3 linked regions of the Homo sapiens genome follow. The protein of the gene in region 1 interacts with the protein of each later gene in a pairwise test. Each region holds a gene or a part of one and is shown on either strand. Other genes may lie near its edges. The genes, in order: GARS1, KLF6 and IARS1.

The links.
Region 2: the proteins of GARS1 (region 1) and KLF6 interact in binary tests that used the Homo sapiens proteins (3 or more experiments, as listed by UniProt).
Region 3: the proteins of GARS1 (region 1) and IARS1 interact in a two-hybrid assay, tested with the Homo sapiens proteins (one study listed by BioGRID).

What each region holds. Positions count from the first base shown.
Region 1 is NC_000007.14:30,611,642-30,619,495, forward strand, and holds part of GARS1 (glycine--tRNA ligase isoform 1 precursor), read left to right. Parts: intron 1-454; coding exon 455-604; intron 605-4,254; coding exon 4,255-4,417; intron 4,418-5,472; coding exon 5,473-5,637; intron 5,638-7,854. UniProt on the Homo sapiens protein: Catalyzes the ATP-dependent ligation of glycine to the 3'-end of its cognate tRNA, via the formation of an aminoacyl-adenylate intermediate (Gly-AMP).
Region 2 is NC_000010.11:3,781,702-3,789,785, forward strand, and holds the start of KLF6 (Krueppel-like factor 6), read right to left. Parts: upstream 3,509-8,084; 5' UTR 3,314-3,508; coding exon 3,212-3,313; intron 514-3,211; coding exon 1-513.
Region 3 is NC_000009.12:92,290,006-92,298,222, forward strand, and holds the start of IARS1 (isoleucine--tRNA ligase, cytoplasmic), read right to left. Parts: upstream 3,693-8,217; 5' UTR 3,606-3,692; exon of another isoform or gene 3,436-3,605; intron 2,589-3,435; exon of another isoform or gene 2,453-2,588; intron 918-2,452; exon of another isoform or gene 831-917; intron 1-830. Other genes in the region: NOL8 (nucleolar protein 8), read right to left, coding at 7,831-7,881. UniProt on the Homo sapiens protein: Catalyzes the specific attachment of an amino acid to its cognate tRNA in a 2 step reaction: the amino acid (AA) is first activated by ATP to form AA-AMP and then transferred to the acceptor end of the tRNA.

The sequences.
Region 1 (7,854 bases):
GCCTGGCTAATTTTGTGTTTTTAGTAGAGACAGGGTTTCTCCATGTTGGTCAGGCTGATCTCGAACTCCCAACCTCAGGTGATCCGCCCACTTCAGCCTCCCAAAGTGCTGGGATTACAGGTGTGAGCGACTGCGCGCGGCCTGAGGTGGTGTTTTTAAATTTATTTTTATTTCTGCTTTTTGAGAAGTGGGGTTTTGACTCACTGGTGTAATTAAATGAAATGGCATTGCCAAAGTAGTACTGCCACACTAATTACTTAATACATTTTCTAATACGTGCTATGAAAATGTTTGCTACCGAGGAAAATATTTCTAAAACTTCATTTTAGGGCCTGTTCAACTTTGTTGTGAAAATGGTATATTTAGGACTTTTAGGATTTGTATCTAGAATTTCAGGATTGTTGGAAAACATAATTTCTTTCTTTGTAACAGACTGACTTACTTAAATTTATAGGTACTTGAGACCAGAAACTGCACAGGGGATTTTCTTGAATTTCAAACGACTTTTGGAGTTCAACCAAGGAAAGTTGCCTTTTGCTGCTGCCCAGATTGGAAATTCTTTTAGAAATGAGATCTCCCCTCGATCTGGACTGATCAGAGTCAGGTACTGCTCAGGTTACTCTTACAAATTAGTGAATGACCTTGGCATTGCATTGAAAATGAAAGCTTGCTGTTTTGAAGCAATTCTGCTTCATAATCCTGATTATGAATTTATTTTTGTTTTCTCCAAAAATCATGTTTTACATTTGGAATCTCTAAATGTAATCTCCAGGATGACAGGCAGTTTTGAGTGACAAAAGTGAACTTGAAGGGAAAGGAAGGAGGGTGGAGACTGTCTTAAGAGTCTCACCTGCTCCAAAATTACCTTTTTCCTTGTTCATCGTATATTTTGAGGATGGTAATATCTTGATTGTCTAAACCAAGGCAATACTGGCAATGGTGATGTGTATAAAAGGGTGGGGTCGGGTGGGGGTAGGGTGAAAGTTGTGGCAGGAGGATTGTTCTAGATATCTAGGGCAGACAACATTGCTGAAGTTGGGGTGAGGATGTATCAGTAACCAACTGGAGTTCTGGAAACAACCTCCGTCCAGGTATTTGGGGGGCCTATATGACAGAAAGGCCAGCAAGCAAGCTTACCCTCATCACTCACTTGGCCTCTATTCAAATAGCCTACTTTTGTCTGATCTATCCAGGGATGTGTGGGAAGGCATATTGGGGCTGGTGAGTTCTATATTTCTTTAGAAATTTATTATGACTCAGCTGTTTATGACTTAAGTTTTTTGTGATTTCTATACGTTATTCCTGGTATCATCTCTTAGAGTAATACATTCCATATAAAATACGAGGTGTAGCTAAACATAACTTTCTAAGGCCCCAAAGTGTTTTCCCAGCCCCAGCGCCCACCCATTTCCTGTCTTCTCTTCTTACTCACTGTAATTACAGACTTGGGTCATAACATAGCCCAGTCACTGACTCTGGATCAAAGCATCCACAGCACCTGCCTCATCTTGTTAGTTCCCATGATGCCATCTGGGAGAAGATGCCTATGTTCTGCGCAAACTGTATCTCTAGGCCCTACAGGTTTACGGTTTAGGAAGGAGGGACTTACAGAGGAAAGAATGTGCCCAACTTAGAGAAAGTTGGGGGAATGACCCCTCTGAGCTTTCATGTAAAAAGAGGAGGTCATCAGAAACTTTAGCCAGGTATGATGGCAATGACAAATTTGTCAGATTTGAGTCTTTGTTTTATTTCCCAGTGTCTGAGTGTTTTTGTTTTTTTGTTTTTCACCGTTTCAATATCTAGCAAGTATGCCTTCCCAAACTGAGGAAGCTGCGTAAGGCTGACCTTGTCTGAAGCCAGTGTTACGAAGAGGGTTTACACAGAGTAGCTATGGGAAGATTATTGAGAAGGACTGAGAAGTAAGGCAGTGTCTGGGGCCTGTGCAGTAAAAAAGTGGTGAGTAGGGAAACCAGCTTGGAACTTGGGAGTGATCCCAGGGGTTAACTGGTAGAAAGGCTCTGGGGCTTCTCAACAGTGGATTCTTTGGTCATTTTCACTTCAAAGTGTCATGTCTGAATTCTGGCTAGTTTTGTTATGTCCCTTGCAAGTTCCTGACCAGAAGTCCACTAGTTTTTTCATGAGTCAGCATCCTCCTGGCTTTTGTTCCATGGTAGGACTAGGATTGGTTTATTTAGTGTTCTGATTCTTCTTGATGGCAGAGTTCTCTGGTGATTAATCTTTGCATAGCTGTATTTCCTTTTGTCCTTTTGTTAGTTTAGAGGTATTAGATTGTTCATATGAAGATTTTTCTAAAATTTTATTTTATTTTGATTGACTTATCTGTCTTCCTAGCCTGTGTGTATTTTAGTTCTCTACAGTTTCAGGTACAGTTGCTGAACTGAGATACAGTTACTCAGAATTCTGATGATTCCTGCCTCCTATCTATGAGCTGAGATTATTGATGAGTAAATTTTGTATGATTTGTATGATTTCAAGTCACACAGTGTGGTGCTTTGATATGCTTATACATTGTGAAATGATTACCACAGTCAAGCTAATTAACATAATTATCACCTCACATAGTTACTTTTTTTTTTTTTAGTGGTGAGATCTACTTAACATCTACTCTTTGAGCGGATTTCAGGTATACAGTGAATCATTAACTATAGACACAGTGCTGAGATTTGTGACAGAACAGATGGAAAGACTTTGGCAGCAGCATTTTGGAGATTCTAGGCAGGGCCCGTAATTTATCCTGTCCCACATTGTAGATGTTCAGTTGCTGTCAGCCCAATTATAAGCTATGTGAGGACAAACACCATGTTTGTTTCTCTCACATTTATATGGGCACAGAAGATGTTTCCTAGTTGTTGAAAGACAACTAAAACATAGGTGCAGCAGGACCAAATAAGAGACACTATTAAAAAATAAAATTTAAAAATTAAACCTCTTGGCCGGGCGCAGTGGCTCACGCCTGTAATCCCAGCACTTTGGGAGGCAGAGGCGGGCGGATCATGAGGTTCAGGAGATTGAGGCCATCCTGGCTAACACAGTGAAACCCTGCCTCTACTAAAAATACAAAAAATTAGCCGGGCGTGGTGGCGGGCGCCTGTAGTCCCAGCTACTCGGGAGGCTGAGGCAGGAGAATGGCGTGAACCCGGGAGGCGGAGCTTGCAGTGAGCCGAGATCGCGCCACTGCACTCCAGCCTGGGCGAGCGAGACTCCGTCTCAAAAAAAAAAAAAAAAAAATTAAACCTCTTTTGCAGTGTATTTCATGTATTTTTAGGATCCATTTAAGCAATTTTACATTACTCGTAAAACATCTGAGATAATCATGGAAGCACACCAGAAAATGTGATTTTTCTTGAAAGAAGAGAGATTGATTTTGACTCATAAAATTAACTTGAAACACTTCTCCCGCAAATAGCTACTAAATTGCATTCAGAGAAATCTCTTTGGGAAACCATTACTATGTGCACTTCATCGTTAGGTAATTAGCTTGATGTTAGCTTGTTCAATTCATGCCTTATATCCTTTGCCTTGAATAACACTTTATTTAAGAAGCTCTTGCTCCAAAGAAACCAACTGTATGATGCCATTATCAGTCATTTACTTTTTTGTAGCAGTAAAAAAGAAGAAATCAAACTGCTATGAAAGCTAAAGAACCATTTCATTTCGCTTTTAATTTCCCATTCTTTGAAATGGGATGAAGAAACTTCATTTAGTGTATACTTATAAAGACTTGCTAATGCTTTAAGGAAAACCATTTTATCTGCATGTCACTATTCAATATCTTATTTCTTATTTTTCATGTGATTTTTGCGTATGTTTTCCTAATTTAAAAAACTATATTAATCTGCCTTTAACAAGTTATTTTCAGTTAAAAGTAATAATCTTTTTGGATGTAGCTGGAGGGAAGGAATTAATACTTCAGAGAAGTTAGATCATGTTTATTTTAAATAGTGAGTAATAAAATTTTCATTAATGTGTTTAAAAATAACCTTCACATGTACCCCATAAATTTGTACAAATATAATACATCAAAAAAATAAAAATAACAACTACCCAGACAAATTTAATTCAAAATTTTTTTGGCCATTCCCTTAGGAAACCAACTTTCTGTTTAGTGAAAAAGACCACTATAGTATGGAGCCTTTATCACTAGAATGCAGTTGAAAATAGAGGCCTTGTTTTTTGTTTGTTTGTTTTTTGTAGTTAAATATGCAGGTTTATCGCTTACGTTTTTGCTTTCAGAGAATTCACAATGGCAGAAATTGAGCACTTTGTAGATCCCAGTGAGAAAGACCACCCCAAGTTCCAGAATGTGGCAGACCTTCACCTTTATTTGTATTCAGCAAAAGCCCAGGTCAGCGGACAGTCCGCTCGGAAAATGCGCCTGGGAGATGCTGTTGAACAGGTAGGATTCTGGAGGTAACTTAACTTAGATTGTGCCTGTTCAGGGTTTGCAGCAATTAGCAAATTCTATGTGTTCTGGGTGACAAGATATTTTATTTTGGCAGTCATTTGCTTTTTTACAGTACTTGGTTTTGTACAGAATTTGTTATACAGTATTATTATAGTAAGAGAAAAATCACCTGAACATCTCAATTTGTGGGCCTTGGGGCTAGCATGAAAAAAAATGTTTAGCAGAGCACTTGGAAAATAGATCTTGGTTTGCATTGTGCCTCACCAATCTGACTCAACAGTATGTACTACTTTGGGGGAGACAGCATTGGACCCACAGAAAGCAAGCCATCTGGGTTTCAGACTCTTCTGTATTACCCATAGCAGTGGAATAAGGCCTTGCATATAAGCACTTTGTAAATATTTGCCTGGAGAAGTGAGTGCGTGAAAACTTGCCAACAGTAGCTGCTGTCCACTAGTGGAATGAGTTGCCTCAGGGAGCAGTGAGCTTCCTGGCCCTGAAAATACTCCTGGCAAGGTTGGACGATAGCTTGTCAGCCACTTTGCAGAGAAGACCTCTGCAGTGTATGGAGATGGGGCTAGATGTTTTCTAAGGTCCTTGCAAACACTAAAATGATTACGTGTACTCTACGGGGTTCACAAATTTCAGTGGGTAAGGATACATTAAAATCCCCTCAACGTGTCATTACTTTGGTTAATTCAGAGGGGAATGTCTTTGCCATTCTTTAGTGTCAATTATGAATATTGTTTTTAGTACTGTAGATTTAGAGGTATGAGGTACTGGGCTGAATTTTTGCTGACCCAGTAAGTATGTTGGACAGATTTTGAATAACTCCATTATCATCATCTTGACATTAACCCATTAAAAAATAACCAAGATCTCATTCTGAGTATTTGAAATTGTTTTGAAAGCAAGATAAAATAGTTTGTGTTGGGTGTCAAATATTTTTCAGTAGAGTGAGTCAATGGAAACCGATATCTTGGCTTTGAAGAGTATTAATGTGTGTTTTCTTTTCTTCCTCCATGCTTGCTTATTGGTTGGTTTAGGGTGTGATTAATAACACAGTATTAGGCTATTTCATTGGCCGCATCTACCTCTACCTCACGAAGGTTGGAATATCTCCAGATAAACTCCGCTTCCGGCAGCACATGGAGAATGAGATGGCCCATTATGCCTGTGACTGTTGGGATGCAGAATCCAAAACATCCTACGTAAGTGGAGTGCTGTTTACCATGTGATTTTCACATTGTTAACTTAGAAGCACAGGTACCAAATGAATTTTTGTGCACTTTATGTCACAGAGGAACAAAGGGAAAAGAAAAGAGATCTTTTCCTGAGCAAAACAGAAAAAGCAGTTGCCTCCTGCCTTTTTATAAGTGTCCTAAGGAGCTCGTTGTAGTCTTAGATAGCTGAGAGACAGAGTTAGTGTATGATGGGACAGTGCGGATGTGTACACTGCTGTACAGTGTATTGGCAGCATTACTGGCAATATCCTGGAGTGGATCTAAGACACATTGGCCTCTCCTTCCTGGCAAGAGTCCCAGCAAACATTGGAAATGGTGGAGAGGTTGAATAAAGAAAGTCATAGTGCTCTTAGCTCAATGAGCTATGTAGTAGCTTTGGGGAATATACTAGTTGATTCTGATCTCTGGCTTAAGAACTACCTTCCTCAAATGTTATGTATTTAACTCAAAATTCACAGACGATCTCCAGGTACCCTCCTGCCCCTGTGCCCTGTCACCCCTCCAGCCTCCACCACCAAACATGAACATCAGTATTGAAGCGGAGGGACGAAAGGCATTTGCATATAGGAGATGCTGTCTATATTGGTGGCAGGAGGAAATGTGGCATCTAAAACAAGGCTGAGAGTCTTTTGGCATTTCTCTTATTGGGTGTTAGAGAGGCTTCCTCGCCTACATAGAAAGAGACTTTAGTCCAGGGGTCACTGGTTCCAGTATACCCTTGGTTCAGTTTTTACTTTTCAGAATGGCTTTCTTTTTATGGATTTTTAAAAATTAAAAATCAAAATTAGTCATATTTTAAAAAGTAATGACTACTTTTTTTAAAACAAAAAGGAAAAAATAATTCTGAAGACTATTATGTAGAAAATTAAACTTCCAGTTATATGCCTCTCCCCAGGTGTTTTATGTCTCTTCTCTGTATTGAGCAAACATTTTCTATAAAGGACCAGATGGTAAATATTTTTAGCTTTATGAGTCTCTGTCACATAACTTTGTTGTTTTTTACAGCTTGTAAAAAACAGCTTTTAAAAAATGTCCAAACTGGCTGGGTGTGGTGGCTCATGCTTGTAATCCTAGCACTTTGGGAGGCCGAGGTGGGAAGATTGCTTGAGCTCAGAAATTTGAGACCAGCCTGGGCAACATAGCAAGACCCTGTCTCTACAAAAAATACAAAAATTAGCCAGGTGTGATAGCACGCCCCTGTAGTTTCAGCTACTTGGGAGGCTGAGGTGGGAAGATCACATGAGCCCGGGAGGTTGAGGCTGTAGTGAGCCATGATTGCACCACTGAACTCAAGCCTGGGTGACAGAGTGAGGCCCTGTCTCAAACAAACAGACGAAAAAAGATCATGCTTAGCTCCATGGTCTTGGGTATGTCTGCCTTCTCTAGATGATTTTTCTACGTGTTCTAACACATGCATGCATAAATGCATAATAATATGCATATGTTTATAAATGGCTATTAATGATGTTGTTTTTAATATATTCTTTTTCCCTTGTGGAATTAGAAAGAATTACTGTAATCTGTTAGGATTTTCTTAGCAAGCTTGCTTGACATATGTCAAAATGATAATAGTAATTATTTTTAGGATTATGGGTGATCATTAATTTCTTTACACTTTTTAGATTTTCTGGGACTTCTTTTTATTTTCAGATCAAACCAATAAAATGTTTTTCCTTTTGTATGAGAAAAGATTATTACTTTTCTTTTTGTTTCATACCCAGCTCCTTCTCTTAGTTTGCTCTGATTCTGATTTCAGATTAAACCAGATGTTGTTCTTGCTGTCTCAGTTAAGTAATTTGCTTAAGTCTCACAGCCAGTGAGTGGTGAGGCTGGGATATAAACCTGGCTGTCTGACACCAGACTCATGCTCTTAACAGTTATGCTGTACTGCTTTATAAACCCCACTGGATGCCTGCTCGTCCTTATCTAAGTGCCATTGTGAGGGTTAGGGATCAGAAAATGGAAAGTCACTGGAAAACAGGGCTAAATGAAACAAGAAGCTCCAGAGTCCCAGAGGCTCTTAAGGAGAGGGGAGAACTCCCTTAGAGAGTTTAATACTTTTTGTGTACTTTATATATTTTTTTAATAAAAAAATTTACCGTTGCAGTTAATGCCACACCAATTCTCTTTCCATCCAGAGAAGTAACCACTATCCCAATGTTGTTATTCTCAGGCACGTTTTTG
Region 2 (8,084 bases), on another chromosome or scaffold:
GTTAAAGTGGCACCGGTGCACCCTCCTCCTGCCGTCGGGGGAGGCATCGCCATTTCCCTTGTCACCTGGCTTCCCCGAAGTCCCGCTGCGCACCTTCCCTGGCGAGGGCAGCTCCCCGGGCACGCAACCCCACAGTTGAGAAGGTTCCCTGCTCAGTTCCGGAGAAGATGGAGGCGTGGAGGTGACAGAGGAGCTCAATTTTCCCGAGCTGACCAAAACTTCGCCAATGGGGTCGGAGGTAAACTTGGCCGTGGGAGAAAGTTCCTCGGAGCTGTCAGAGGATTCGCTGCTGACATCTGAGTTCAGGCTGTTGGTCTCTAAGTTGTAACAAAAGCTCGGGCTGATGAGAGTGTCCTCTGGAGGACTGGAAGATATCTTCAGTTCGGATTCCTCCTTTTTCTCCCGAGCCAGAATGATTTTGGTCCACAGATCTTCCTGGCTGTCAAATTTGATTTCTGAGGCTGAAACATAGCAGGGCTCGCTCTGGAGGTAACGTTCCAGCTCTAGGCAGGTCTGTGCAAAATGAACCAGAGAAGGCACGTGATTGCCATGACGACCAAAAGTAAAAGCAAAAGCAATTTCCAAAAACATGCAAGAATGAAGGACAGATAACATTGCTGCCCGGTCACTACAGGGGCAAAACCTTTTGTAATTAAGCATCCGTGTCCTTACGGAAGTTAGAGGAAATCTGTTTCTAGAATGGTAAGAATTCAGAGGAAAAGTCGGAGGGTGAAACCTCTCCTGGCTTTCCCAATGTTGGGCCAAGGGCCACAATGAGTGATGATCACTAAGCCGGTTTTTTTGTTGTAGTTACCAGTGTTGATGTTTCTCATGAAACCAGAGGAAGAGAACCGGCCCCATACACATACTCCTCCCCAACAGGTTCAACCAGATTATCTGACATTGTCAAGAACCATGTGTTTTAAGGAAAGCCCCAGCCATCCACCCTTCACACTCCACAGATACCCACACAGGACAGAAAGACTGCACGGCACACAGCGTGTTCTGAGGGACCCCCTTGGGGACACGGCTGACAACACAGGGCCACACTCGGGGGAGAGGAGACAGCAGCTGTCTGTATTCAGGGGCATCGAATGGAGCTGCAGAAAAACCACCCATTTCCTGTGTAGCCCAGACCGCCTATGTTTTCACAGAATGCCGTTCCCAAGTGCAGGCCCTTGCATGACACAGAACTTTAATTACTTCTACAGTGGTCAGAGAAAAACAAGGAACTTCAACAACAGGAGTGCAGAAATAATTCCAGCATGGCCATCTGCTATTGTGAAGGGTGCAAGGGGAAATTACTCCACGGCCCTGCTGGGAGTCCCACAATGAACAAGAACTTTATCTACTGGCCAAGAGTACAACTGCATGAGTCATCACTCTGATTTCTTTCACGCAATGCCAAAGGAGACTTCCTTTTGAAATTCTCATCAGCAGCCAAATAAGGACCCAGCTCAAATGGACATGCAGTGTGGCATGGACAGTACCCCTTCCCCAGCCCCGCAACCAACCTTTCAAGAAGCTACAACTGCCGAGATCAGCATCCCCTCTCCCCACCATTTCAAACTTTCTAGCCACTGGAAAAGAAAAATGGTAGGAAACATTTTAGGATTAAATTATGTCTGCCCTGATTTTCACGAGGATCAGCTGCCTGCATGTCCATATAAGGTTGTCTATACTACTGGCAATTCTACAGATTTCAGTTTCTACACCAAACGGCTCTGGTGAGCACGTCATTTTTCCGGGCAGGGACCTTCCTGAGCGCAGCCTACCCCAGGGGCTCAGGCTGACTTAGCAGTGTGCCTCTCTCCTGCCACAGGCAATCCCTCCCCCTCCCCAGGCTCGCACACAGCCGGTGGGAGCAAGCACACGGGAGAATCATGCTTTCCCCTTTCCCCCGAAACCAGGCGTCTGAGTTACAATGCACACTACAGCGTTCTGAAGAGAGGCAGCAGCGATGTATTTTATTGATTTAACAAAGAAAAAAGAAAAGCACATTTATGGAGATCTTGTTAAACTTTAATAATCCGGCCAATTTAAAATCTCCATTACGCTGATGAGCACCCGGGACCTGAACGAAGCTCTCGGAGAGTTTAAAAGCCTCCAAAGGCGACCAAGAGCCAGGTCTGGCCGTTTGCCCAAATCCCAAACGCCCGAAGGAAACTACTTAGATCAATTTCAATCACGTCCTAGGGAGCAGCTTCTTTGAGGAGGAAAAAAACAGGAGGGGGAGGGGGAAAAGGCAGGAGAGGACTGTGAACAATTAAGCAGGCGTGTGAAGGTTGCAACACCCTGCATTTCATCTTCCTTAAAGCTTTCGAGGCTTGGAAACCCACAGCCTCTATTTGATCTGGCAATTCACTTTGTGACGAAAAACAAACAGCACAGCAGGGCAGGGAGACAACAGTAAACCCTCCTGCGATCGCTGGAGAGACAATGGGAGGAGTGTCAGTCTCTCTCCCCTCGGGCGATGCTACCTATAAGCACGGGGACCTGGTAAGTTTCTTAAATTTCCAATGCCCCCAAATTCCAGTTCTACGACAATGTCGGAAACCGAGGTCCTTCTTTCCAAACTAAGACTTGAAGCAGTTTGGACGGGCTCATTGTCACAAGACTGACAAGTCACTGGGGTGTACACAGTTTTATTTTTATTTTTCTTGGTCAACAAGAGAAGCAGGGAAGACAAATAAGGCAGATCTAGGGGAAATGTTAGGCATTCCAAAGAGCAGAAAACACATTGGAAATGGTCTACAGTTTAAAAAAGACAAAAATAAAAGAGAGCTGGTCTACGTTCTGGGGGCAAAATGTGATTTTTTTAAAAAACTGTTAAGTACAAGCACCAAGAAACAAAACAAAAACAAAATCCGTTAAAAAAAAACAACAAAAAACAAACAAACAAAAAAAAAACACCTTGGCAGGCAGAGCAAGTTGGTCCCCATGACAAGCTCCAGCTGTGGCGTCTGGAGCGGGGACAGGCTCCGAACTCGTGCCAGGGGCTCGGCCGGGCTGTGCCGGGAGTTGGGGCTTCCCTGGGCGGACGCTGATCGCAGCCTGGAGGATCGATCGGCGGGGGCGCTGCGCCCGCTCCCCCGGTGACAGCGCGGGGCCCAGGCCCAGCGGACCGCAGAGAGCACCGGGTCTGAACCCCAAACAGCCGACCCGGCCCGCGCCCCGGCGCCCGCAGGGAACCGCGGCCGGCTGCGTTTACCTGTTGCCAGTACTCCTCCAGAGACGGCAGCGCCGAGAAGTAGCCGGTCTCGTGCACGATCTGGAGCTCCTGGAAGATGCTGCACATGGGGAGCACGTCCATGTCGGGCCGGGTTGGACGGAGCCCGCGGTCGCGAGGGCGGCGAGGCGCGCGGTGGGAGCCGGAGCCGAAAGTCTCCCCGGAGCGCAGGTGAAAGTTTCATGCAAACTCCAGGCTCGCAGAGACGCCCGGCCGGACCCTCCCGCAGCCCGCAGCGCGCGGAGCCCACACAATATTTGCAAACACCGGACTGACTGCAAACGTAACCCCTGCAAAACTTCCCTATTCAAAGCTCCGCTGCCAGCCTCCCCCTCCGCCCCCGCCTGGCTCCCCCCACTCCCCCTCCCCCCACGTGACTCGCCCCGCGCCCGCCCCGTGCGCGGCCCAATCCCGTGGCTCCCGGCCCGGGGGCTGCGCGCCGATGATGTCAGCTCCGGCCAATCGCAGGCGGCGACACACAGCGGCCCCGCCTGGCGTGACCGAGACTCTCCATCACGGCCCGCACCATTGGCTCAATTCGAACTCTGCTCGTTCTGATTGGAAAGTGGCCTCGCAGGCTATTTTTAGCAGGGTATATAAGGCGCGGGCGGCCGCGCGCCGGAGGAGTCCGCGCTGTGAGGTGCGCGGCCGAGCCCTGCACTGCGCCCGCGGCCGGAGCTAAGGGAGCCGGGGCTGGGAGAGCCGGGGCGGGCCGCGTCGCCTGTCCCCAGTCCCGGTCTCTCTTCCCCGCTGCCCGGTCCCGCCACCCCACGCCCGTCCCGGTCACCAAGCCGGGCCCTGTCGCCGCGCGAGCCCCGGTTCCGGCAGCTCACCCTGCGGGCGGCCGTCCGGTCCCGGGGCCGCCCGGTTCCCCCCCGTCCCCTTCTATGCCCGAGGCCGCCCCGTCCCCAACTGTCCCCTTCTACGCCGGGGGCTTCCCGGTCGCCAACTGTCCCCTTCTATGCCCGGGGCCGCCCCGTCCCCAACTGTCCTCTTCTGCGCCGCTCTGTTTCCCTACATCCCCCTAGTCATCCTCTGTTCTCTAACCTTGGGGTACCCCTCTCTGTCCTCCTCCACCTCCGGGTCCCTCTCTGTCCCCCTCCATCCCTGAGCCCGTCTCCGTCCCCCTCCAGTCCTAGGGTCCCCTCTGTCCTCCGGGCCACCAGAGTGGGGGAGGGGAGCACGCAGGCTCCCCTTGGAATTGGGAGAAACGTGTTTATCTTGTAGAGGGCGATCTTAGCCCTCACCAAGGTTAACAGCTAGGTTTTCCCATGAACGTGTAAACAATTTAGGTGCAAGCCGACATTTAGTGTGTGTGTTTTTTTCCATATAAATTATCTCCTAAAATATACCGTAATGTTCATTTTTAAGAAAAATGTCGAGACTCGAACCAGAGCATTTTAAAATCCAAAATGGAAAACTGAATTGTAACTGTATTATAGTTTTTGTTTCAAAATAGTTTAATGAACATTAAACATTTTGAAAGAATGGACTATGTAAAAAAAAATTAGAGGGTTTTGTATGTTAAGTTTTAGAGGGTCCGGCAGAAGCATGTGGCTGTAAGACTAGGTGGGGACCTTAGTGAGTCTGGAGTGGAGAAAGGAGGTTTGTCTTGTACCTGCGGTATGTGGGCGGTGAAGGTTATGCAGAGTGAATTGACAGTGTTCTTGGCTCGTGTTCATCACATTTACCCCAGCAACTGAGAGCCAGGACCAGCCCTTCTTGGGGACCTGCACCTTAACTCTGTTTCCAGGAATGCAAATGGCTTTGTTTTGAACCATCCACAGATTTGCCCAAGCGCCCATTGACCGGGGCCCAGTGACTGGCAGCCGAGAGCATCTGGGCAGCCGTTGTGTTGGGGGCAGGGTTCTCTCAGTAATTAGCGCTTGTGACCTTGGCCCCGCTAGTTCCTAAGTAAGCAGGAGTGTGGAGCAAGTCCCCCGCTGAGGGCCAGGCACGCTGGATCAGGGGGAGCCCGAGATGAAGGGGGAAGGCTCTGTCTGGGCCAGGGAGGACAGGACGGCTGTCTTTGCAAGGCGTGTGGGCGTCCTGGTGAGGGTGTCCCATTTTATCTTTGGGACAATTAATTATTGTCTTAATGTTTTTTAATAAATCCACATTCCTATAGAACTTAAATTCATCCTTGTCTCTTAACATGCTTTGCCCGGCACTATGAAGATTATATAGTTTATTTTTACAAGAGGGAACCTGATTAGTCATAATGCAGATACAGTACAATGGCCATTGTCATTTTCAGAAAAAAAAAAGATTTGAAAACAGGGTACATATGAACACTAAATTTCAAATAGAATAGATCCTATGGCATCCTGCTGCGCTCATTGACCATTGAACACACATTACTCACACCCTATGAATGGCCAGGTATTGGTACACAGAAATTTACAAAACAGGCACAAATCCCTATTACGGTGTGGGAGAGGTGGGCTGCCAGGAGTATGTAGATGTTTGAAAACAAAAGTCCTTATTACGAGTAAGCATGTAACCAGTTGGTGAAAAAATATCATTTTCTTTGATGTGACAAAGAATATGCATCGCATCTGAACACTAATAGTTGCGCCTGATTTTTTTAAGAAGAGCAACAAAGAATCGTAGAGGGCCAGATTAATTCAGAAGGGGGAAGTATGGCAGGATATAAAAAGATGATGGATTTTACACTTTAGTTGTCCATGCTGTGCGCATGGCCCTGGTCACGTTATTTAAATAGGAGATTAAAATGACTATTAGAATGAGTTTAGTATAATCAGAAGAGTTAATGGATTAAAATTCCTGCTTGGTAGCAAATAGTAGTGATTCAATAAATTGAAGGCAGTGTTCACTTATTCACCATTTAGCCATTTGTAAGTTTGCTCTTGGTAATTATTTTATAATCCCCCACCCTTCTTTTAACATATGAGTGAATGCAGACAGAAAAATGAAGTCAACTTTGCAGGCCACAAAGCAAATCAGAGACAAGAGTTGGACCTCGACTTGTCCAATAATCCCACAGGTGCTTCCTTCTCCTGCCGGTCGCTGAAGAGCCCTGCTCTGTTTTCACTCTCGCAGTCTTGGAGAGAAAATAATCAGCTCCATTTGTTGGACGTGACCCTTGTTCTCTGCTCACCTTGAGCCACTCCTGTCTCTGCCACTATCTTCAAAAGGTCAAGATCCCTTCTGGGTGACAGTCGTAGGCTCCTTTCGACGTTCCTGGGGGCCACTTCACCCCCCTGGCACCCCGCTGTTACTTCCTCAGTCCCCACTTAGGCCTCCATGCCCTCCTCCACTGTTTTTCTTCTCCTCTTAGACCTCCAGGCTGTGCTCATTTATTTCATACCAGGAAGCTCTCTTTGTTGCCTCTCAAAAATAAAAGTATACATTTGAAACCTAATTTTAAATTTAATTTAAAGATTAATGGGATAACATGTTGGTATTGAGTACATTTGATCTTCCTGTTCTAGATCATTCAAGACGGGCTCTTGGGGGAAGTCTTACAAATCTGTTCTGAGGATAATTCCAATAATGCCCCCTAATTATATTGACAGAGAATGCTCCAATTTTGGGGCAAGAAGCCAATTTTGTTGTTCTGTTTTGTTTTGGTTTTGGTGTCTGTACCAATATATTGCCTGTTTTGGAGCAAACTACCCTTTTATTTCATCTGTTTATTTTGGGTGTGCAAAATATAATTGTTAAGAAAGTACTTCTGAATATTTACATGATAGAGCCTATGTAAGTGTAAAATGTTCCTTTTTTTTTGAGATGGAGTCTCCCTCTGTTGCCCAGGCTAGAGTGTAGTGGCACAATCTTGGCTCACTGCAACGTCTGCCTCCTGGGTTCAAGCAATTCTCCTTCCTCAGCCTCCCAAGTAGCTGGGATTCCAGGAATGCACCACCACGCCTGGCTAATTTTTGTGTTTTTAGTGGAGATGGGGTTTTACCATGTTGGCCATGCTGTTCTTGAACTCCTGACCTCAAGTGATCGGCTGCCTCTGCCTCTCAAATTGCTTGATTACAGGCATGAGCCACTGCGCCTGGCCCTGTGATGTTCATTTCTCAATTATCTCATTTGCAGATAGTTCTATCTAAATAGTGAGTTGCCTTTTCTCTCCCTAGCGTTTTTACATAACATGTAAGGTGTAGTAGATTCACTTTTTAACCATTTTTGCTTAGAATAATGAAGGAAAATGCCCTATTGATAGTTTTCAAAAGATGTTGAATTTTACTGTCAACATAGGCAAGGTAATAAGTACAATGACAGGATACCTCTGGGGCATTGGTCGGGGAGAACTTCTGTCTATCTAAGACCTTTGTTTTAGTAGCCCTCTTTTAAAATATAATTGTAAAATGGGACAGCTGTAAAGCTCAGTTCACAATAGGGCCTCCAGAAGGAGCTCCCTGTGAAATATCCACAGGTACAAGCTATACCACGTGTGTGGTTAAGATACCCATTCTTTACAAGGTGGTCTGTGCATTCCACACACTTCCCATCAAAATCTCAGCAGGCTTTTTTGTTGAAGTTGTCCTGCTGATTTAAAAATGTATAGGAAATGCTGAAGAGAGCTATACCTAAACCAGTCCTGAAGGTTGAAAGTTTTATATTATGTGTTTCAAGACTTAAAGCAAAATTGAACGTGATTGTGTGACATTGGCTTTGATACAGTTAAATCAATATAACAGAATATAGAGCTCAGAAATACCATCATTCTTATACACTTTTAAAAAAAAATTTTCAAAAAGGTACTAAACCTATCCCTGTGTGGTTTACTGAGGTCTTGTATCTGTGGTTTATTGTATTTCATTAAATCTTGGAAAGTTCTTGATCACTGTAACTTCAAATATGTCTTCTGTCCCATTCTCTTTCT
Region 3 (8,217 bases), on another chromosome or scaffold:
CTGCTATGAACATTCACATACAAAATTTTGTGTGGATCTATGTTTTCATTTCTCTTGGGTTTGTAGCTAGAAGTAGAATTTCTGGGTCACATGATAATTCTGTATTTAACTTTTTGAGAAAATGCCAAAATTTTTCCAAAGTGACTGTACTATTTTACATTCCCTCAGCAGTGAATGAGGATTCTAATTTCTTCAGATCTTACCCAACACATCTTATTGTCCATCTTTGAATTACAGTCATTCTAGGAGATGTTAAGTAGTATCTTGTGGTTTTGATTTGCATTTCCCTAAGGACTAATGATGCTGAGCATCTTTCCACATGCTTATTGGCCATTTGCGTATCCACGTTGGATAGATATTTATCCTTTGCCTATTTTCTAATTGGGCTCTTTTTGTGGTTGGGTTTTAAGGGTTATGTATACATCCTGGATACAAATCCTTTATCAGATATATGATTTATAAAAAATTTCTCCTGTTCTGTGGGCCGTCTTTTTATTTTCTTGATGGCATTTTTTGAAGCACAAAGATTTTTCATTTTAATGATGCCCAATTTGTCAATTTTTGGTTTTGCTGCTTGAGCTTTTGGTGTCATCAATAAACCATTACCTAAACAAGGTTATAGATTTTTCGCTTACATTTAGGCCACAAATAATTTTATTTTCGTATATGGTGTGAGGGAGGGGTACATGGCTATTATTTAATATTCAGTAATGGTAGAGACAATGTTTCCAAAAGTAAGCAGGAAAATCTTGGAAATTCTATCTAGTGGTGCAAAAAACTCATTAATAATCTGAAGAAAAATATCTCAAAGTAGTTAAGAATTTTCTTACCTACACTCACATGACAGAAATCAGTTCTCTTGAAGTAACTTCATCTTCTCTTTGAGGAAAACTGGTAAAACTTAAAAAATCTTAAAGCTAAAAAGATGAGAATCTCACATTCAAATATAGATTCCAGTTTTCCATTTTACCCTTTTTATTGCTTATTCATGATTTTTATGAAGGATGAGCCCTATACCTTTCTGGTTTAGTCCCTAATGAGAGAAGTCTTAAAGTGTCTTTTTAAATGTTTTGCTAATAACCTCATGCAGAGATACTTGATCAATCTATGACTTAAGTATCTAGTGAGCCACCCTTGAGACCTTTCCTTCTCAAAGTCTATTTATATTTACTTAACAATTCTAACAAGGTGGGTGACGAGCTTTCCAAGTCAGTATCAGATCAGAAGGGGATAAAATTGCTAATAAGGGAACAACAGAGAAGATAAAAAATCTTAAGTACTCAAGAACCACAACAGACCAGGGTAATCAACTCTACAGGAAAAGACACCTACATACCTCAAACAGTTTTGAAAGCATCAAAAGCATCATAGTCTAATCAAGTTATTGATTCAAGTTATCATTTAAAAAAAAGTCTGTGACAAGTAGTATCTTTCATTTTCTTTTACCCTCATTAATTTTTCAGATGTGTGAGTGCCTCTGAGTTTAATTTAAGAAAAAACAGGACAAGAACAGTTGGGCTGTTTAACTAACTGAAATAGCTATTTCTGATCACAGTATGCCATTAAAAGGTATTAAACAGAAGGTTTAAGGCATTTTAGATCTTCAACTCTTATTATAACCTCTAGCCTTTCAAGGACCAAAATAAGTGTTTGTGCATTTACTGATTTATTTAGGTTCATTGTGTACCTTATCAGAGGCCAACTGAAACTTATGGGATTGTTATCTGAAGACTAACAGACCTTTAGATACCAACACATTCTAATCTCTTCAAGGCTGGTCCTACTATGGCCCACATCTATGGGAGCTTATTAGAGATGCAGACTTACCAGCCTCACCTCGCACCTACGAGTCAGAACCTGCATTTTAACAAGATCCCTAGGGGATGAGCATTCACATCAAAGTCTGAACATCACCACTCTTGCACTGTTCTAACAATTATTCAGGAATATCTATCTGAATTTTTATTTTTGAGAAAATAAGATTTAAGCTTTCTGAGAAGAGGATCATTCCTTTTTTTTTTTTTTTTTTGAGACAGTGGCTCACTCTGTCACCTAGGCTGGAGTGCAGTGGCACAATCATGGCTCACTGCAGCCTTGACCTCCCTGGGTTCAGGTGTTCCTCCCAGTTTAGCCCGCCAAGTAGCTAGGACTACAGGTGTGCACCACCACACTCAGCTTTTTTTTTTTTTTTTTTTGGTGGGGAGGGGGTGGTTTGTAGAGACAGGGTTTTGCCATGTTGCCCTGGCTGGTCTTCAACTCCTAGGCTAAAGCGATCCTCTTGCCCTGGGCTCCCAAAGGGCTGGGATTACAGGCATGAGCCACTATGCCTGGCCAGCTCATTCAGCTTTTACTGTGTTTTTTAGGGAGTCTCTACTTTCCCCAAAGATTAAGAATCACTGCATTATTACGTCAAGCATAAACACTCAGTATAACAGCATTGACTATTCAGGAAGAATCATGTACCAGCGACCGGGCTATGGCAGCTGCTGAGGAGAAGCAGCCTCCATGCATAAATCACAGGATTGCTATGGCCCATCGAATCCACTGGAGAGCTGTCCATGCACAACAGCATCCAGCAACCACAGGGCAGGGACAGAGCAGGTTAACCTTGCACAACAACCTTGTTGTGCAGAGGGATGCCATCCCCTTTGCTTCCCTCTTATTATAATCCAGGCCCTTGACTCTTCGCTGCTCCACAACTCCTTCAGGTCACCTTAACCTCAACTTCCCGTTCAGCAATTTCGAGACCACCCTCCCTGATATTAACTACATATTATTCACATTACTTCATATTATTTTGCCTCAATATATTTTAGAAACGCACACTAAAACCATGTTTTGTTTAAAATTTCATAATTCCTTCCAGAATTGCTTCCCTTTTAAACTACTGTATTAGTGGTTCCAATATTCTTCCCATTACTTAGGCATGACATTTTTGAGTCACCCCTGACACTACTCAGAAGATACACACAACCAATTAATCATCAAGTCATGTGGATCCTACCTATAAGCCTATTTCTGTTCCCCCTTTTCATTCTCCTCTAAATCCATTTCTGTTTCTCCTTTTATTCTCAGGTCTTCATAATCTATTAAGTCAAATGTAACCTGAAAGTGGGACCGTCTCAAACGTTTCCTCAATTTAGTTATATCCTATTAACATAGACTCCACAGGTATACTCATGCAAATGTACAAAATGTGTATACAATGACATTCACCGAATAATTGTTTCTCCAGGCAAATAACTGAAAACAATCTAAATATTCATGGTGACTGAAGTAAATTACGGTACATCAATAAAATAAGTATCTCGCAGCCATTGAAGGTAATAAATTAAGACATATAAAAATACGTATTGCCTATACATAAAGTCACAGCTATATCAATTTATACTATGTATATCATTTTAAAAAGATTTTACTCATTTCAAACACTACCTCATTCAAAAAGGCGACCATAAATTCCTGAGGCTGGAAACGAACGAACGGCAAGCCCCGAAGAAACACGCTCTTTTAAAAATTAAATCTTGTGCTACTGTTTCGGGGTTGTAACGCGTGCGTGACCCTCGTCTTTGAGGGCCGGATCCTGCAGGGAAGAGAGGGCGTACCTGAGGGGCCTCGCGTGCCTGGACAGCCCCGCGGGCCAGCAAGCCTAAAAGCAACTCATCCGGCGTCCACGCTGCAACCGGGCGCACGGAGGTGATGCAACGCGCTGAAAATGCGGGATCCAGTGAAGGAGACAGGCTCCGCACCGGCCAATCAGTGCGCGCTGCCTGACACCTGCCAACAAGCCAGGCGCCGATTGGTCGCGCCGGACATGATTGCGCCCACTGGCTCGGATGGTGCGACAGTGGTGCTTGCTGGTTTTGCGCCTCCACGTGGAAAACGAACCAGCGCTGAGGGCGGCGCTGTGCGTGCTGCTTGTATCCGTTGCAGTAGTGTAGACCGAGGTCTCACTCGGGTTGTGGGCACCTCCGGGTAGGTGACGGCCCACTGGGAAGGGGCGCCGAGGTCGGGGCTCATGTTCTTCATCTTGTTTGCTTTTGTCAGTATTTATCTGACTGGACACTTCGTACCTAAATTGATAACGACAAACAGCAACTTCCGGAGAGGTGGCTTTAATAATTATACTTTTGGGCCCTGAGCCGCCGACCCCAAAGCCGCTTCTCCTATCATAAATGGCTACGTGAAACGATAATAACAAAAGGGAAGGAAGGGTCTGACAACCAGATTTAAAAGTTTTATTGTATTTTACTTAAAATGTTTCCGGTAATGAAAACATTGCACAAACGATTTTTTTTTCTTTTTTTGAGAAGCGGTCTCATTCTGTCGCCCAGGCTGGAGTGCAGTGGCACGGTCATGGCTCACTGCAGCCTCAACCTCCCCGGATCAGATGATCCTCGCACCTCATCCCTGGCCAAGTAGCTGGGACTACAGGCTAGCGCCACCACGCCCGGCTAATTTTTGTATTTTCTGTAGCAACGGGGTCTTGCTATGTTGCCTAGGCTGCTGTCAAACTCGTGGGCTCAAGCGATCTGCTTGCCTTAGCCTCCTTAACTGTTGGGATTACAGGCATGAGCCACTGCACCCGGCCTGCATACTTATTATCATTGCTATGAGTCGGCTTGGTACCTTACTGATCTGCTGGTTAAAATCTGGAGCCTTGCAAAGGGCAGTAGGCCTCGGGCTTTGGCCCCAGAGCCTCTAAAGGAAATTCTGGATCTTGCCAAATTGGGAGTAGTTCCGTAGCTGCCTATTGTATCCGTTAGAGGGATATAAAAAATTTATCTGGCCTAGAATAGGTAGAATGCAGTTTCTTATTAAGTTTAGGAACATTTTGATAGTCTGTTCAGCATATATTTAACTTTACTTACCGTCTTGGCCCTGTGTGAAGGATTAAAGTGGTTTCATGTCCTCCATCATGGGTAACTCAGTGTTCTGACTATACTCACATAACGTACATAATTTAATAGCTGCAAATCTTGTTAATTAACTGAAAGTATTTGGAATGTGTTTGAAGTTTTCACATTCCTCACGTTGCCACCTTGTTCAGTTCATTTTTGTCACCTATCCAGAGAGCCCAGATAGAGCCAGACAGAGGGCTCCTGGACAAAGGTGAGGTAGGCCAAGTCTAATTATTTAAAAATTTGATTGAGAAACATTTATATTAATAGTACTGTTGTGTTGGAAATAATGCTCAAAATCCTAAGGAAATTGAACATTCAAACAAAGGATTTTCAGCAAAGCAATTTTACTTCTGCGCAGAGGGGTGCTTCTCCTTGGCCAGTCACCATGAGAGCACACCAGAACAAAGGGGCACGAGAACCTTTATCCCTGACACAAACCCTGCCCCTGTACCCTTTCTCCATTGGCCGGAGTTGGGCCTCACAATCTAAAATAACCACAGTTGGCTAAACATTTTAACTTTCTTTAGATAAGGTGGGCACGTAAGAGAGAGGGGAAAGGGGGAAGGGCTGTCTGTAATGAGCTAGAGAGCTAGTCTTCTCTTCGGATAAGGAATACGAGCTGGTACTGATAACGCCTGGTACTGTGGCCTGTCTAGGCATGTAACAAAGGCAGAAAGGAAAGAGGAGAAAAAGGGAAGAGGGGGGCACTGTGAATTAAAGAATAAAGGATTGATCAGGCTATTTGAAGAGAAACCTCATCATGTCCCACAGTTGGAAGGTATGGGAAGACTAAGTCTAGAAAAAGTTAAGCAAATGAAAAAATTCCAGCAAAAAAGTTAACTGTAGTCAAAATATATTACTTGGACTGAAGAGGTGAATAATTTTTTCACCTTTTCAGAATATGTAGTGTCTGGAAGTGAAAAACCAAGAAATCAGAGCATAAGCATGTTAGGTAGAAACATGGAGGTAAATACTAGAGAAATTAAATTGCTGAAGGTGGTTTCATCTGGGGAGCAGGAACTGGGGGGTGGGCAAGGCTACTTGATGTTACTTATTTGTCTGCTTGTGAAACATGTGCCGGATTTAAATTACGGCCACACATTCTGACACTCCTCCCACTAAGAAGTGAGGATCTGTGTCCCCTCCCTTTCAGTCTGGTTGGGCTGTGTGTCAGTTTAAACCTGTAGAATACAGTGAAGTGACTGAGCCGGTTTCTGGGCCAGGCCTTAAGAGACAGGCAGCATCTGCTTCCTGCCTCTGAGAACACTTGCTCCTAGAGCTTTTTTGCTATGCTGTAAGGAAGCCCATGAACAGGCACTGAGTGGGCCATCTTAGAAACAGATCCCGTAGCCCTAGCTGAACCACCCCAGTGAAAGCACACAGCACAGATCAGCAGTCCCTAGTGAGTGTTGACCAAATTGCAGTATTTGTGCATAAAATAAATGATTGTTACTGAGATGATTTGCTATGCAGCAATAGAAAATAAGGTACAAATGTGATCTACATCAAGAGAAGGTAGAAAGTGTGAATTATTTATCCTGCTGCTTAGTTGTCCACACTCTCCTTGAAGTCTGAAGTTTTGGAAACCTAGGAATCCAGAATTACTCTTCAAGTTATTTAGTTCCTTGGACCCTTACTAAAAAAACATAGAGCATAAGCCCTAGGGTCATAATGGTTAACACACCAGATGAAATCCCAACAGTTAAGAGTTTATATTCAGCATAGGTAAATCAATAAATACTAATTTTAGGTACACACATCATGGCTTAATGATAGTCCCTTGGAACTATATAATACTATTTCTTTTTTTTTTTTTTTTTAAGATGGAGTCTCACTCTGTTACCCAGGCTGGAGTGCAGCAACATGATCTCAGCACTGCAACCTCTGCCTCCTGGGTTCAAGTGATTCTCCTGTATCAGCCTCCCTAGCAGCTGGGATTACAGGTGTGAGCCACCACACCCAGCTAATTTTTGCATTTTTAGTAGAGATGGGGTTTCACCATGTTGGCCAGGCTGGTCTTGAAATCCTGACCTCCTCATGATCCGCCCGCCTTGGCCTCCCAAAGTACTGAGATTACAGGTGTGCGCCATCACGCCCGGCCTATGTAATACTATTTCATACAGAGCCCATTTTGATAGGAGACGTATGTCTTGAAATCTAGGCAGGTTGGTTTATTTAATGTAATGTTAAATCTGTTTCCCTATTTGGGCTCAGGGTCCTGACTCCTAATTGTGACTACCTATCTTTCAGGCACTTGGTATTTTTCATAAGCTTTTAGTCTAACTAGAATTTTGGGATTGGTGTACATCTAGATGTTGTTCCTTAATTCCTAGAGGCAATGACAAGATAACTGTATTTGGCTTCCTCTCCTGGTCCTCACAGAACTCTTATATGATGTTGGTCTGAAATGTCCTATATTTCAGTTAACCATTCACCAAAACACAAGTATAAAACTCAATGTTGACTTGTAATTTATCAGTTTAAACAAAAATGACAAAATGGAAGGTGTATTTGACATAATCAGAAATAAAATTTCAAATAGCCTATAATTCACACAAAGCCTAGGCTGGAAAATACAAGTGCTTTGACTCATTTATTTAAAAAGGCTTCATATAAACCTTGCATGAGAAGATGTCCATTAGTTACTCAGGATAGAGGGCAAAGAGATTATATACAAAAAGTATTTTCAAGGACTATCTTGTTCTTCCTTTATAAGAAGTTGAATTTAATTTTTGAAGTAATTACTTAGGAAGAAATGCAGAGGAGTTCCACAGAAAAAGATGGCAACCAGAATGATATTCCGTCAGCCAGATTTTTAAAATTCCTTCACTCTGAAATTTCTTCTTTGTCAGCTAAAACTGTTTTCTGGGTCAGTTTCCTTAGGTGAGCCTTGTTCACATTCAGTATCAAAACCAGCTGACATTTATTATTTTGGTTTCATTTTCCTTTTTGCGTCTTTATGTTTCTTTCGACAATCCTAGGAAAAAAAAAAGACTTGGTTAGCAATAAACAAATTGTTTTTAAGATGTTCAGTAGATAGAAGTAAAACAGGTTATTCTCACTGTCAGGGCTGTGGAAACCTATTTTGAAAGTGCTCTTTTGAAATGAAGAGGGGATATTGGCATTTTTGGCATTAACTGTTTATAATGGGAACTATAATTCAGTCTTTAAAAATCTGATGCTTTCGTGTTACTTAATAGGCTTGGCTGGATTCTGAGACCAGTCACTCAATTGAGCCAGTCTGCAGTCTCCTCACCTATACCATTCATGAGTTCCCTTCCAGGACTGTAATTCTAGATAGGTAACATGTCTA